Homo sapiens: one gene and its partner. The protein of the gene in region 1 purifies or fractionates together with the protein of each later gene. This does not show direct contact. Each region holds a gene or a part of one and is shown in the gene's direction. Other genes may lie near its edges.

Region 1 (7,332 bases):
CGGGGTTTCACTGCGTTGGCCAGGATGGTCTCCAACTCCTGACCTCGTGATCCGCCCGCCTCAGCCTCCCAAGGTGCTGGGATTACAGGCATGAGCCACCACACCTGGCCTCATTTTATTTGTTTTTTAATCTGTATTTTAAAATGACAGTCTTGGCTGGTCACAGTGGCTCACGCCTGTAATCCCAGCACTTTGGGAGGCCGAGGCGGGTGGATCACGAGGTCAGGAGATTGAGACCATCCTGGCTAACACAGTGAAACCCTGTCTCTACTAAAAATACAAAAAATTAGCTGGGCATGGTGGCGAGTGCCTGTAGTCCCAGCTACTCAGGAGGCTGAGGCAGGAGACTGGCATGAGCCCAGGAGGCGGAGCTTGCAGTCAGCCCAGATCGTGCCACTGCACTCCAGCCTGGGCAACAGAGCGAGACTCCATCTCAAAAAAAAAAAAAAAAAAAATGACAGTCTTATATGCAGGAAATCCTAAGGAATTCACCTAATAAACAAGTTCTGCAATACAATATCAACAATATGCAAAAATCAACTGCATTTCTCTATAGTAGAAGTGAATAATTCAAAAAGGAAACTAAGAAAACAATTTGTTTACAATAGCATTATAAAGAATAAAATATTTAAGAGTAAAAGAAGTGCAAAATGTATACTCTGAAAATGAGAAAGCAATTGAAGCTGCCTAAATAAATGAAAAGTTATCCCATGTTCATGGATTGGAAGGTTTAATACTGTTAACATGACAAAAACCACACAAACTGATTCACAGATTCAAGGCAATCGTTATCAAAATCTCAGCTGGCTTTCTTAAAGAAATTGACAAGTTGATCCTAAAATTCACATGAAAATGTAAGGGATCCAGAATAGCCAAGACACTCTTGAAAAAAAAAAAAGTTGTAAGACTCACACTTCCTTGTTTTAAAAGTTACTAAAAAACTACAGTAATGAAGACACTGTGATTATTGTCAAAGGATAGACAAATCAATCAATAGAATAGAATTTAAAATCCAGGAATAAACCCTTAAATTTTGGTCATTTGATTTTTGACAATTGTGCAAACAATTAAATGGGAGAAAAATAGTCTTTTCAACAAATGATGGTGGGATAACTGAATATCCACATGCAAAGAAATCAATTTGGACCACTTACATTAGACACAAAAATTAACCCAAAATGGATCATAAGCTAAAAAGTAAGAGTTTAAACTATAAAACTTCTAGAAGGAAATATAGGTGTAAATCTTCATGATCTTAGATTACACAAAGCCCTCTTAGACATGACACTAAAAACATATATAACATATAGTCTGGCACACAGTAAAACAAACAAAAACCATACGTGACAACAACAAAATAAATTAGACCTCGTGAAAATTAAAAATTTTTATGCTGCAAATAATACCATCAAAAATATGAAAAGATTAAAAAAATGAAAAGATAATGCACAGAGTGGGAGAAAATATTTGCAAATAATCTAATAAGAGATGTATTTCCAGAATATATAAAGAGCTCTGGCCAGGCATGGTGGCTCACACCTATAATCTTAGCACTTTGGGAAGTCAAGGTGGGAAGATCACTTGAGCCCAGGAGTTGAAGATCAGCCTTGACATTATAGGAAGACCTAGTCTCTACAAAAACGAGAAAAACAAATTAGCTGGGTGTGGTGGCATATGCCTATGGGCCTAGCTACTCAGTAGGCTGAAGTGGAAGGATCGCTTGAGCCCAGGAGTTGGAGAGCTGTGATCATGCCATGCACTCCAGTCTGTGCAACAGAGCAAGATCTTGTCTTGAAGAAAAAAAAAAGAAAAGAGAGAACTCTTACAACTCAATGAAAAAAGACAACCCAATTTAAAAATGATTAAAGGATCTGAATAGATAGTTCTCCAAGAAGATATATAAATGGCCAATAAAAACACGAAAACATACCCAACATCATTAGTCATTAGGGAGATGTACATCAAAACTGTAATGAGATACCACTTCACAACCACTAGGATGGTTATGATAAAGAAGATGGGAAAAAAACCAAGTATTGGCAAGGACATTAAAAAAAACTGAAACCTTCACTGGGTATGGTGGCTTACACCTGTAATCTCAGCACTTTGGGAGGCTGAGGCAGGCAGATGGCTTCAGTCCAGGAGATTGAGACCAGCCTGGACAACATGGCAAAACCCCGGCGCTACAAAAAACACAAAATTTAGCAGGGTGTGGTGGCACATGCCTGTAGTCCCAGCTACTAGCGATGTTCAGAATAGAAAAACTCATAGCAACAGAAAATATATTATTGGTTGCCAGAGGTTGAGGAGAGTGGGGAGTAACTGCTAATGGATATGCAGTTACTTTCAGGGTGCTGAAAATACTCTGGATTTAGGTAGAGGTGATGGTTGCAAAACTTTGTGAAGATACTTAAAACTATCAAATTTTACACTTTAAATGAGTAAGTTGTATGGCATGTGAATTATCTTTTTTTAAAAAAATGAGACGGGATCTCACTGTGCATTGTGTTGCCCAGGGACGGAGTCTCGCTGGAGTGCAGTGGTGCAGTCTCAGAGGCTCACAGCAACCTCTGCCTCCTGGGTTTAAGCGATTCTCGTGCCTCAGCCTCCGGAGTAGCTGGGATTACAGGTGCCCGTATATTTTATAATATATTCCATAATTAATCGCTCCGTATTAAACTTGCTGATGCAGGTCTCCAATTACTGAAAAACCTGATACCAAGTTTTTCAATGGGATTTTTTTGTTTGTTTAAGAGATGGGGTCTCACCATGTTGCTCAGGCTGGCCTTGAACTCCTGGGCTCAAGTGATCCTCCAGCCTCAGCCTCTCAAAGGCTGGGACTACAGGCATGTAGCACTTTGCCTGACTCAAGGGGAATTTTTAGTAAGAGTATATAATCCAAGTCTGTAGCAGTTGGAGGATGTCGTACCACGCTGAAGTGTCACACATAACTGATGACTCAGTCCCCCAAGCCTATTTTATCATCGTAAAGAAAGCTATTTCTTTGATTATTCCAACTCTTTCAGCACCAGGACTGCTGCAGGGGCTGGATTCATGCTACCTGTAGTTGCAGTGTAAATTATGTGTCAGAGCCAAGATCCTAGGAAAGTCAAAGACTAGGTTACAAGAGCGATTCTTTTTTTTTTTTTTTTTTTTTTTTTTTGAGACAGAGTCTTGCTCTGTCGCCCAGGCTGGAGTGCAGTGGCACAGTCTTGGCTCACTGCAACCTCCGCCTCCCTGGTTCACGCCATTCTCCTGCCTTAGCCTCCCGAGTAGCTGGGACTACAGGCGCCCGCCACCACGCCCGGCTAATTTTTTGTGTTTTTAGTAGAGACGGGGTTTCACCGTGTTAGCCAGGATGGTCTCGATCTCCTGACCTTGTGATCCGCCCGCCTCGGCCTCCCAAAGTGCTGGGATTACAGGCTTGAGCCACCGCGCCCGGCCAAGGACGATTCTTTCTAATCTTTGGTAAGCCAGTTTTTACAGAATGAAATGCTCTTGGATTGACTGACTTGATTGGGTAAGTATTCATTGGGCTCTTGTTCCATGCAAGGGCAGTCTACAAGGGCCTAGATATGGGGGCCCCCAAAGAAGAAAAATCGGTTTTTCATCATATTTTCTGGTTGAGTTTCTTCCTTTATTATATTTGTTACATATGTTATTAAATTATTTCCATAAAAGAGGTTATGCTGAGCAGGTAACCAAATTCTTGTTCCCCCAAAAGACATGTATAATTCAGACGATTTATGCAATTAGAAGAAGGGAGACTTCATCAGTTAATAAAGTCTAGAACGTGAGGAAGCCCAGTCATTTCCAGGACCTTCAGATGCCCAAGCTGGATCCAGGTTTTCCACCCCGACAGCTCCAGGGAGCACGCTGGAGAGACAGACTTCACCAGCGGGAAGGCGCGGCACCCTACGCGCAAGGAACCTCAAGTCCCAGAATCCTATGAGGACTCCAAATCCCAGAAACCTGCACGCAAATCTATCCCGGGTGCCAAGTCGGCCGACCGCAGACGTGACCAAGTTGCGAGGCTAGGGTGAGGTGTCGTAGAATTTGTCCCTACCATTGTCCCTGCAGGGAAGAGACTTTAGTGATCTAGAGCTGGTCATTGTCTCTTTCACAGCTCGCGTGAAAGCACCCCTCTCGGCGTGTTTGATGCCATGATCAGCGTCTCCCATTCCCTCTGTCCCCTTTCTCTGCCCCCGTAAGGATGGTTCAGCCCGGTATTGAGGCTCCTTGAGCTGGCTGGATGGTTGCGCCCGCCCTACCCCGGAATGTGGGCCTTTGGAGCGAGCGAAGTGGGAGGGACCGACGCAGGAGGTGTCTTGGGCCCGGGCGGCTGTAGAGGCGGCGGCGCCTACGGGCAGTGGGAGGAGCCGCGCGGTTCCGGCTGCTCCGGCGAGGCGACCCTTGGGTCGGCGCTGCGGGCGAGGTGGGCAGGTAGGTGGGCGGACGGCCGCGGTTCTCCGGCAAGCGCAGGCGGCGGAGTCCCCCACGGCGCCCGAAGCGCCCCCCCGCACCCCCGGCCTCCAGCGTTGAGGCGGGGGAGTGAGGAGATGCCGACCCAGAGGGACAGCAGCACCATGTCCCACACGGTCGCAGGCGGCGGCAGCGGGGACCATTCCCACCAGGTCCGGGTGAAAGCCTACTACCGCGGGTGAGTGTCCTGGGACAGGGCGGTGGGCGGGAGGGGACAGGCCGGCTCCACTCGGCCTGGAGGAGGGGAGGGTGAGGGGCTGGAGGTGTTGTGGGCGGATTGGGCTGGGCGGGCGGGCGGCTCCGGTGACTCAGGGTGAGTGACGAAGTGATAGGGGTGGGGGCGAAGCAAGGGGATGCAGTACTGGGGGCGCCCCCAGGTATGGCGGTGCGGGGAGCCGAGGGGCCAGAGTAGGGTCCGAGAAGGAAGCTAGGGTTAGAGTAGGTGCACCTGGTGTGGACGAGAGACTCGCCTCCTGAGAGCTTTGTAGGGGCCTTGCATCCTTAAGTCTGGGTGTATTTGGGGTTGCGAGTTGAGGATTCCAAGTGATGCCTTAGTTAACTCAGTTTGCTGTGGGGATAGAAAACGGGACTTCTTCAGTTAGCTGTCCGTTTTGATTACCAGCAGGCCTAACGCCTCTGGTTCTCTGAGATATACCTCCATCCCCGTTGTGTTCACGTAGTGTATCTGCACTGCCAGTATATTAGACATAGGGGTTGTATTTAAGAATCAAGTCGATGCGTTTTCAGGGACGTGCAGTGGGTACTTACGTGTCGTCAAGATTAAGTTGCATGTGTGTAAATCAAAATTTTGTGAGCCTTTCTTTCTCAGTGTTGTTTCAACGACTACCCGATAGGGTGAGATACTGCAAGGTGAGGAGACTAGCCTAGTTACAGTTTTAAATTCTCTGATCTTCACTCCCTTACTATGGTTACAAGAAAAAACCCAGTTCTAAGTTCATTGTGTTAAATCATTTTCTATCAGTGACGCAAAGTGCCCCCCTTCCTTTAAATTCAGTTGTGGTTTGAATTTTTTTTTGAGATAATTATGTTTAGGAGCATTAGAAACGTGAAATGTTAGTGTGACCATAAAGGTTGGAGACTGAGAAGTCACAGAAAACCCAGCTACTTTGGCTTGCCTTACTGCTTGTCCAGGTAGAAGTAAATTGCTTTAAAAAACTCAAGCAGTGCTAGGTTGAAATTTTAATGCATACTTTTACATTCCTGAGAGGATCAGTGAAGATAGCAAACTCTCAAACTACCTCTCTTGTTTTGATTTCAAAGAAAATCTGAGCCCCTAAATGTTGTATTGATTTGATGTAAGGACTTTTTTTTTTATTATTATACTTTAAGTTTTAGGGTACATGTGCACAATGTGCAGGTTAGTTACATGTGTATACATGTGCCATACTGGTGTGCTGCACCCATTAACTCGTCATTTACATTAGGTATATCTCCTAATGGTATCCCTCCCCCCTCCCCCCACCCCACAACAGTCCCCAGGGTGTGATGTTCCCCTTCCTGTGTCCATGTGTTCTCATTGTTCAATTCCCATCTGTGAGTGAGAACATGCGGTGTTTGGTTTTTTGTCCTTGATGTAAGGACTTTTAAATTTGCTGCCATGAAGCCTCTGGCCTCTGTTTATTATTAGCTTGACTGTATGCAGGAGTAGTTTATTGGAGTTATATTGGACAGTATGATAACTTTGTGTTTAAGCAGGTAAAACTGATTAAGGAGGTTTTTATTTTAAATCAGTACCAAGAAACGTGTGGATATTTTTTAAAGTTTGTAGTTGTCACAAGAGCTGTTTTGACTTGAGGATGGTCAGCCATGAACTTTGCAAGGTGAGAAAAAAGCTTCCTTTGCTTTTTTTTTTTTAAACCCTTACCTGTAATTTGATGAATGAGATGTTTCACTTTATTCTTTTATTTTATTTTTGTTTGTTTGTTTTTGAGACAGGGTCTTACTCTGTTACCCATGCTGGAGTGCAGTGGCACAATCTCGGCTCACTGCATTCTCCGCCTCCCGGGTTCAAGCAATTCGCCTGCCTCAGCCTTCTGAGTAGCTGGGATTACAGGCATGTGCCACCACACCCGGCTAATTTTTGTATTTTTAGTAGAGACGGGGTTTCACCATATTGGCCAGGCATGTCTTGAACTCCTGGCCTCAAATGATGCGCTCGTCTTGGCTTCCCAAATTGCTGGGATTACAGGCATGAGCCACTGCGCCTGGCCCTAAGGCTTTCAATAAATTCTTATTAATTGAGATCATCTTCTCCAATGAGTCTATGAAAGGTAAGAAATTAGTGCTTCTATTTTCCCATTTGTATTAGTTTGACACATGTAAATAGGCCCAGTTAGTAAATGAAAATCATTGTAAACTCCTTTGAGAAGAAATCAAAGTCTTGCTGTACTTCATGAATTTAGATAGCAAATTATCTTGGCTTATTGCTCCAGTTATTAAAAAGAAGAGAATAAGGACATACAGCTTCTTTAGTGTTTGACTGCAATTTTTCCAAGACATTCAAGGTAACATTGTCTTTTAAAATCTGTGAAATTTTGCTGCGGCGCAAATAACCTCTTGCCCATTGTATACTGGTCTTTGCTCAATGAAAGCTTTCTAATGGTACCTTCATTTCAAGCCTCATTTAAAGACAATATCAGCACTCTAAATTGTACCAAATTCCTGTCCTCTGAAATTAGATGTTAAGATTATGTGTTTGTATAGTCTAAACTGATGATTGTGGTATTACATAGTCAGCTGCTCATTAATATAGATGAAGCTAAAATGAGTCACGGACAAGGATAGTTAATAAACAGGTTGGCTAACTAGAACACCTACCTGATTTTAAAA
Region 2 (7,026 bases), on another chromosome or scaffold:
GTCTCTGTGGGTGAGGGGATCTTTTTTTTTAATTATTATTATACTTTAAGTTTTAGGGTTCAACCATTGTGGAAGTCAGTGTGGCGATTCCTCAGGGATCTAGAACTAGAAATACCATTTGACCCAGCCATCCCATTACTGGGTATATACCCAAAGGACTACAAATCATGCTGCTATAAAGACACATGCACATGTATGTTTATTGTGGCATTATTCACAATAGCAAAGACTTGGAACCAACCCAAATGTCCAACAATGATAGACTGGGTGAGGGGATCTTTGCTTGGGAATTGCATGCCTGGTGTTGAGAAAGAGGAGAGCGTCTGAGAGCCCTGGGTCTTAGGGCTGGCACACACCTTTCTGCTCCCTTCTCTCTAATTGAGCATTAGAGACTCCGCCCCCTGCTGGGAGTTAGAACTTTAGCTGTGTTTTCCCATGTGAAGGAGCAAAGAGGCAAAGCTTCATCTCTGTTGGGGCTAGCATCAACTAATTCAGGTATTCCCCATTTACACATTGGACATCTACTTGCTGCAAAGGCATGGTGACAAGTCCTTGTGTGGGAGGCTGGCAGCCAGTAGGAAAATGTTCCATTTGTTTTTTCCCAAATTTCCCCACAAAGGAGGGGATGCTGGACAGCATGAAATTCTTAGTTCATGACAGATTCCCTTCCATTCATTCAGGAACTATTTCCTGACTCATTGTCATAGACTCAGAGATGGGAACTCTAAGGATCATTTAGAAAATCTGAAAGAGAGGGACTAGTGACTTCCCCTCTCTGCGACTTGTTAAGATATTAGGGCAGGGCATTTCTCTCATGTATCTCTATCATGAGGACTGTGGGAGCCTCAACCCCACCCCCTGCAGTGGGTGGGGAGGGTGTGGTCTACTGGGGTAACAACATTTGTTTCACACCTTAAATACTACCTTACAGACTCATTACAGTTTTATATATTACTCTACAATATACCCAATTTGAGTTTAATACAATAATAATGATATATATTTTTGACCATATAGCAATGTTGGTGTTCGACAATGATTCTCTGTATTGTCCTGGGGCTTCTAGCACCTCCTGGAACATCGCTAGATGGTCAGGAGCACCAAAGTTTTAAAAACCTGATGCTCTGCTGTGGTACCATATGGTCCTGTGTAAAGCAGGGTCCTAAGTCCTGAGTCTCTAGGAAATACTGCTCAGTGAGCACTGACTCTATACTAGATGTGAAGCCGGGGGTAGCACAGGATATCTTATCTAAGCCTCCCAACAGCCCAATACACCTAGCACTCTCTTTAACTCCATTTTCTAGATAAAGAGATCGAGACTTGTGGAGATGGCATGACTTGCCCCAGGATCCAGTGGTGGAGTTGGGATTTCCGCATTATCTAACATCCTCCCATGTTAGACTCCAATGCTTATGCTCCTTCAATTCATTACGTGTCTGGAGGACTTTGGAAGCTATACGTGGCTCTCCCACACTACCTGTCCCCTGTGGCCAGCATAAGTGAACTCTTGCATGGGTGGCTTCTCTCTCCATCCCCGGCAGGCTGTGGACTCTTGGCTGCCCTGCCCTGGCCTGTCTCTCCCCAGGTTTGGCCACAGATATCAGAGATGCCAACCAAGTTATTTGTAACTAAAATAAATCACATCCCTTATCAGAGTCCAGCTGCCCTCCCAGATATGCTCTGATTTACAGGCTTGGAATAAAGAGAGAGGTGGTTGCTTGTCTACAGGACAAGTTAGGGCAATGCCCTCTGCCTGAATATTAGGAAAGCAGCATTACAGGAGCTCTCACTCTGACCAGGCAAGCATTTCACATGCACAGACCCAGAGACCCACTCCTCACATGCTCATTAGTAGGTTGTGCGACCCTGGGTAGGAGGCTGACATGGGTCTTGAACTGAAACCCAGTGTGTGGCTCTAGGTGACATGTGGCCACCCAAGTGAGGTTTCGGATCCACCTGCAGTGTCAGATGCTTCAAGGCTGGGGTCCCCTGATGGAGAGGAGGTGGTTGGAGATCACCTGGGCCTCCTCAGCACTGCCTCCTGGCTGGGGCTGGGGCTGGGGATAAGAGAGTAACTGCAATTGTGCTTCCCCGGCACCTTCGCTTTAGGTCACTCCACCGAAGAGCCTGAAAGGGAAGTGGTTCTTGCGAAAGAATGAGCTGAAGCAGGTGGCAGATGCTACCAGGCACCGTGTAGTTTTCAAAGGGGATCTTTTTCTGCCTCAGAGAGAAATTCTGGGGTTTGCACAGCAAGAAACCGATGACTCAATTTCCTTTGTGTCCCTGCTTTAATGGGAAGGTTGTAGGCGTTCTTTAGAATGGCAGGGTAGGTTGATACCTTCTACCTTAAATTTGAATCCCACTTTTCACTCACTTAGCAGGTTGAATTTTTTTTAAGTGTACCCCCCACAGCTGCCCAACTGGGTTTGCGAGGCAAGCCCAACTTGCCAGAGTAAACCGGAAGGGGTGCTTTCTAAAGTTTGTGGTTCTGGAGTCTGGCCAGGCATGGATACAGTCATTGTGCGTTCCAGATTTTCTGGGAGAGTCAGGATCTCAAATATGCAAACACTCTACCAATTGATGTCTAGTGCATATTTTGACTAAATGTTTATATATTTTTCCACAAATAAATACATGACTTAATGTAATTGAAAGTCAAACACTTTTTAAAAATGCTTTTTGCATAAAGAAATTCACATCTTTACAACTCCTTAACTAGGATGGTGTCAATTAAATTAATGTTTGATTCAGGACATGTGTACTTTGGAGGTAAGTATTTCATATTCCTCCCCTCTCCATTGCTCAATTGCCCCACTGGGTGACGTACCAAGATAAGCCACATGTTTGATTCTTGTTTGCTGGATGTGGACATATGCACATTGCAGGTATGCCTATAAGTACATGCCTGAAGGATCTATGTGTGTGGTGGGAATTGGTGATGCCAAAGAATGCTAAAGACTTTCATGCCCCTTAAAGGGGAAAATAACCACAACAAAACAAATTCCAATGTATCTTCTCCTGTCTTCTGCAGCACTGGGGGAGTCCCCTGATAACAGGGATCATGTCACATTCATTTTTGTGGGCCCAGATCCCAGTAATATTGACCCATAACTGTTGAACTGCAATGAATGTCTAGAATATAAAAGTCATGATATCTATATATATGGAAGCATGCTGTCAGTATGGGCTAAGGTGCAAATACATTTATGTGTAAGTGAGAACCATGGTGATGGCTGTGTTGCTCAGGACAGGGCTGACTTGGCTGGCTGACTGCCCACCACAGGCCTCATGTTTGGTCTACCCCAAACAGTGAGCTCACCCATCTGTTTGTTTGCGGCTTTGGTGGCTGCCTGCTGTGACCGCTGGGGACATCTGGCTAAAGACAGGGTTACTAGATAGTTGGGCTGAGAAGGGAGTGGGAGCCAGTGAGATGAGGACACCAACCCCAAATTTAAGCCTCAAAACAAAAACACTCCCCAGCAGCAGCCACCTTGGGGTTCTAGTTATTTTGGAGATACTGATACGAGGTTGAGATCCTTGGGTGAGAGGCCCACACTCCTCCAACCCCCATGTCTGCTTCTGGAAGGTGGTGGCAGAGGAGAGAAGTAGAAGTACTATATGGGAGATGCGGGAGATTCTTGCCTTCTCTGTCGGTCTCTTTGGGCAATTATCAAGCTGTCATCTGACCAGATACTACCATAGCTTCTTCGGGGGCAAATCCGTAGGGAATCCTGACATCCGACGGGGAGCCACTTTGGCAATGGCAAACGGTGTCTCCTCTCCACAGAGCTTGTGATGTCAGAAATTACCCATAACTGGGGCAGGTTTTGTCTTCCCAAAGATTGTCTGCCCAGCTAGACCTGAGAGACAGGGAGACAAACACAGAATGAGGGGGTGGGTCTTGTGGGGGTGGGGAACGATGGAAACTCACAGAGCCAGATCTCCCCGAGTTTGAGTTGCACTGGCTGCCTGGGTGTGTCCTCCTGAGGTAAGTGTCCCTGCGAAGTGCAAGTGTGGGCAGACAGATCTCAGGTGGGTGGGGAGGGACTGAGTCACCAAGGAGGTGATTTGCAAAACTCAGGTCCCAGAAACTTTCAGGTCTTCAGCTTTTAAAAGTAAAGGTTAATTGCAAAACTCCGGGGTTGAGGGAAGAGATTATTCACATAGACCAGTCATTTTGAGCATCTGCTGTTGTGGCATTGCAAGTCTCCTTCGCAGTGCCTGAAAGTTCATTTGTTTTTGAGAGCTCTTACGCTTTTTCTGTTTGCATCTTTGCACAAGTTCTATGTTTCTGAGAACCCTCACCACTATTAGTAATAATAGCAAACACTTACAGAGTGTTGACCATGTACCAGCGCCATTCTAATTGTTTCCTATATACTGCCTTGTTTAATCCAAACACTGACTTCATGAAGGTGGTGCTGTTATTATCTGTCTTTTACATATGAGGAAACTGAGGCACAGAGAATTTAAGTAGCTTGCCCAAGGCCATGCAGCTGATAAGTGATGGCGCTGGGATTCAAACTCACATCTGGCTACAGAGTTCATGCTCTTTGTCACTATGTTAGAGTGCTTCTCTTGGTATATTAAGATATCGAGGCACCCTAGAAATCCAGACGATTGTACCTGGAAGTACTGTAGTTGTTTTCAAAAACTTCATTTGGGAATCTAGTTGTGGGTGAGGTCATAACATCCACTGAGCTTTTAAACATGATGTCAGAGGAAGGGGTTAGAATTGCAAAAATGAAGGAGGAGGAAGTTGTAATGGAAACTTCTGCCAATGCATATTCTGAGTTGACTCATTCATTCTGATCTCTGAATAGAAGCTCTACTCTCTTCCATGTGATGGAAAGTTGAGGATAGGGTAGGGCTGAGAGGGATGTGAATTGAGTTGTTTGTTCATTAGGATAGGATAGGGCTGAAAGGGATGTGAATTGAGTTGTTTGTTCATTATCACTTCATTATTTGTCACCTGGATGAAAGGTAAAGGTGGCTGATTAGTGTTTCTCCATCAGCTAGAACTTTGACTGGGAAATGAGCCAATCAAATAGCAGCAAAATATTTGCCCTCACCTTACAGGCCCTTGGTTCCAGGGTCTTCTCTCCACCGGCTAGAATGGATGAGGGAGGGAGAGAAACTCTGAGAAAAGAGGCTGTCAGGAGTAGGGCTGTACATATCCAGGGCACAAGGAATTTGGCAAAAGCTGGAAGTATACTATAGCCCTTCTCTCCAGCCCTAGCCTAAACCAGATGACCAGGCTTCTATTTGGCCCAGCATGTGACCATCCCATCAGGGAGCAAGAGAGTTTCCTCTGGGTACCCCTCACTGAGAAAAAAGCCACCCAGGAAGGGAGGAGGCAAGGCCCCCTGGGAACATCTGGCTCAGTCCACAGGAAGGGATGCAGGCCTTTTCCTGGGAATGAGGACTCATCCCATATTCCAGCCCCCTTCCCCCAACTTTTTTTTTTTTCAATTTTAGTGCATCTCTTTACACTTAACAGGTCTGCAGTGACTTCTAGGAGGATCCACACACCAATCGTGGAACTAGGCAGCATCTTTTTCCACTTCCTTTCCAAGATAGTAGCACGATAACAGTAAAGCCCCTTTGCAAGTGTTCACTATTATGCACATTAAGATGCCAGGGAGAGGGCTGGGAAAGGTGGCTCACACCTGTAATCCCAGCACTTTGGGAGGCCGAGGCAGGCGGATGACCTGAGGTCGGGAGTTCGAGACCAGCCTGACCAACATGGAGAAACCCCGTCTCTACTAAAAATACAAAAAAATTAGCCGGGCATGGTGGTGCATGCCTGTAATCTCAGCTACTTGGGAGGCTGAGGCAGGAGAATCACTTGAACCCGGGAGGCAGAGGTTGCAGTGAGCCAAGATCACGCCATTGCACTCCAGCCTGGGCAACAAGAGCGAAACTCGGTCTCAAAAAAAAAAAAGGTGCCAGGGAGAAATGAACAATTCCATGCAGCCAACACCTGGTCTCCTGCGTTTGGCTTAGAAGGGCATTTCTGCCCAAGCCCCCAGCTCTAGTCTTTGCACACTTTAAATGAGTAGCTACTACATGCCAATCACAGATGTTGCCTCTGCTGAGTATCCAGTCAAAAAACCAGAATCTAACAGAGCTAACTAAGCACCATCTTGCAGGAAACCAGCTGACGTCAGCTCCGCAGCCACCAGTGAGTTACTGGGCCCACATCTGCCTGCAAGAGGGGGAGGGGAATTCAGGTAACCCACAAGAGGGGATAAAAGTTCGGGGAAGAAATCTCCTGTCAAGGAGTTTGTTTTTGCAGTGGATCCTCTGCAGTGAGACTAGTTGTCTTTACAATATCATTAGAGGTCAGGTACATTCCTGTAGACTCCCTTAAGTGACTTGCTTTCTCCTATTGTTCCCCCTGAAAATTCATAAAAACCTCACAAACACATCTCCATTTAAAAAGAGAAAGTTTAAAGGATGCCATGTAATGGTTATCTCTTTTCTTTTGCCAGTGAGCATAAAAGCTCCTTAGGGAAAAGCCCAAACCCTCTATACATTTTCATATTCATGATAGCCCTGAGCGGTCAGCACAGTTCCCCAATTATAGTGGGTGCTCAATAAACACTTGGATGGCTTACTGAATTAATAATGTTTCTAGACTTGGCTAGCAAAGCCATCTCCGTTACTTATCTTTTGTGATTTTTATAGGTTCTGTCTAATTCTTTTTCTTCATTTTTTTTCTTTCTGGTCTATACAAATCTTCTTTCATTTTTCTCTATTGCTACTTGTAGCGATCCTCAACCCGCCTCCTCCCTTGAAATTTCTGTTCTCTGCACTCTCTTCAGTCTAAAGAGATCTTTCTTGAGGTTTGAAATGTTACACAAGGCAGGGGAAGTTTAGAGCTAATTGTATTTTGTCCAGTAGAACGGGGATCTGGATTTCCTATAGGTCTGGCTGCCTCTTTGTCTACACCTTTACTTCCAAATCTGGCCTCATGTATAAAAAGACCCCAAACCTTAAAATCATGTTCTCAACAATACTCAG

The links. The genes of interacting proteins can lie anywhere in the genome.
Region 2: the proteins of PRKCI (region 1) and CD44 purify together in Homo sapiens (affinity purification with mass spectrometry; 3 studies listed by BioGRID and IntAct, with this or other methods). This does not show direct contact.

What each region holds. Positions count from the first base shown.
Region 1 is NC_000003.12:170,218,111-170,225,442, forward strand, and holds the start of PRKCI (protein kinase C iota type), read left to right. Parts: upstream 1-4,313; 5' UTR 4,314-4,559; coding exon 4,560-4,660; intron 4,661-7,332.
Region 2 is NC_000011.10:35,142,160-35,149,185, forward strand, and holds part of CD44 (CD44 antigen isoform 1 precursor), read left to right. Parts: intron 1-7,026. UniProt on the Homo sapiens protein: Cell-surface receptor that plays a role in cell-cell interactions, cell adhesion and migration, helping them to sense and respond to changes in the tissue microenvironment.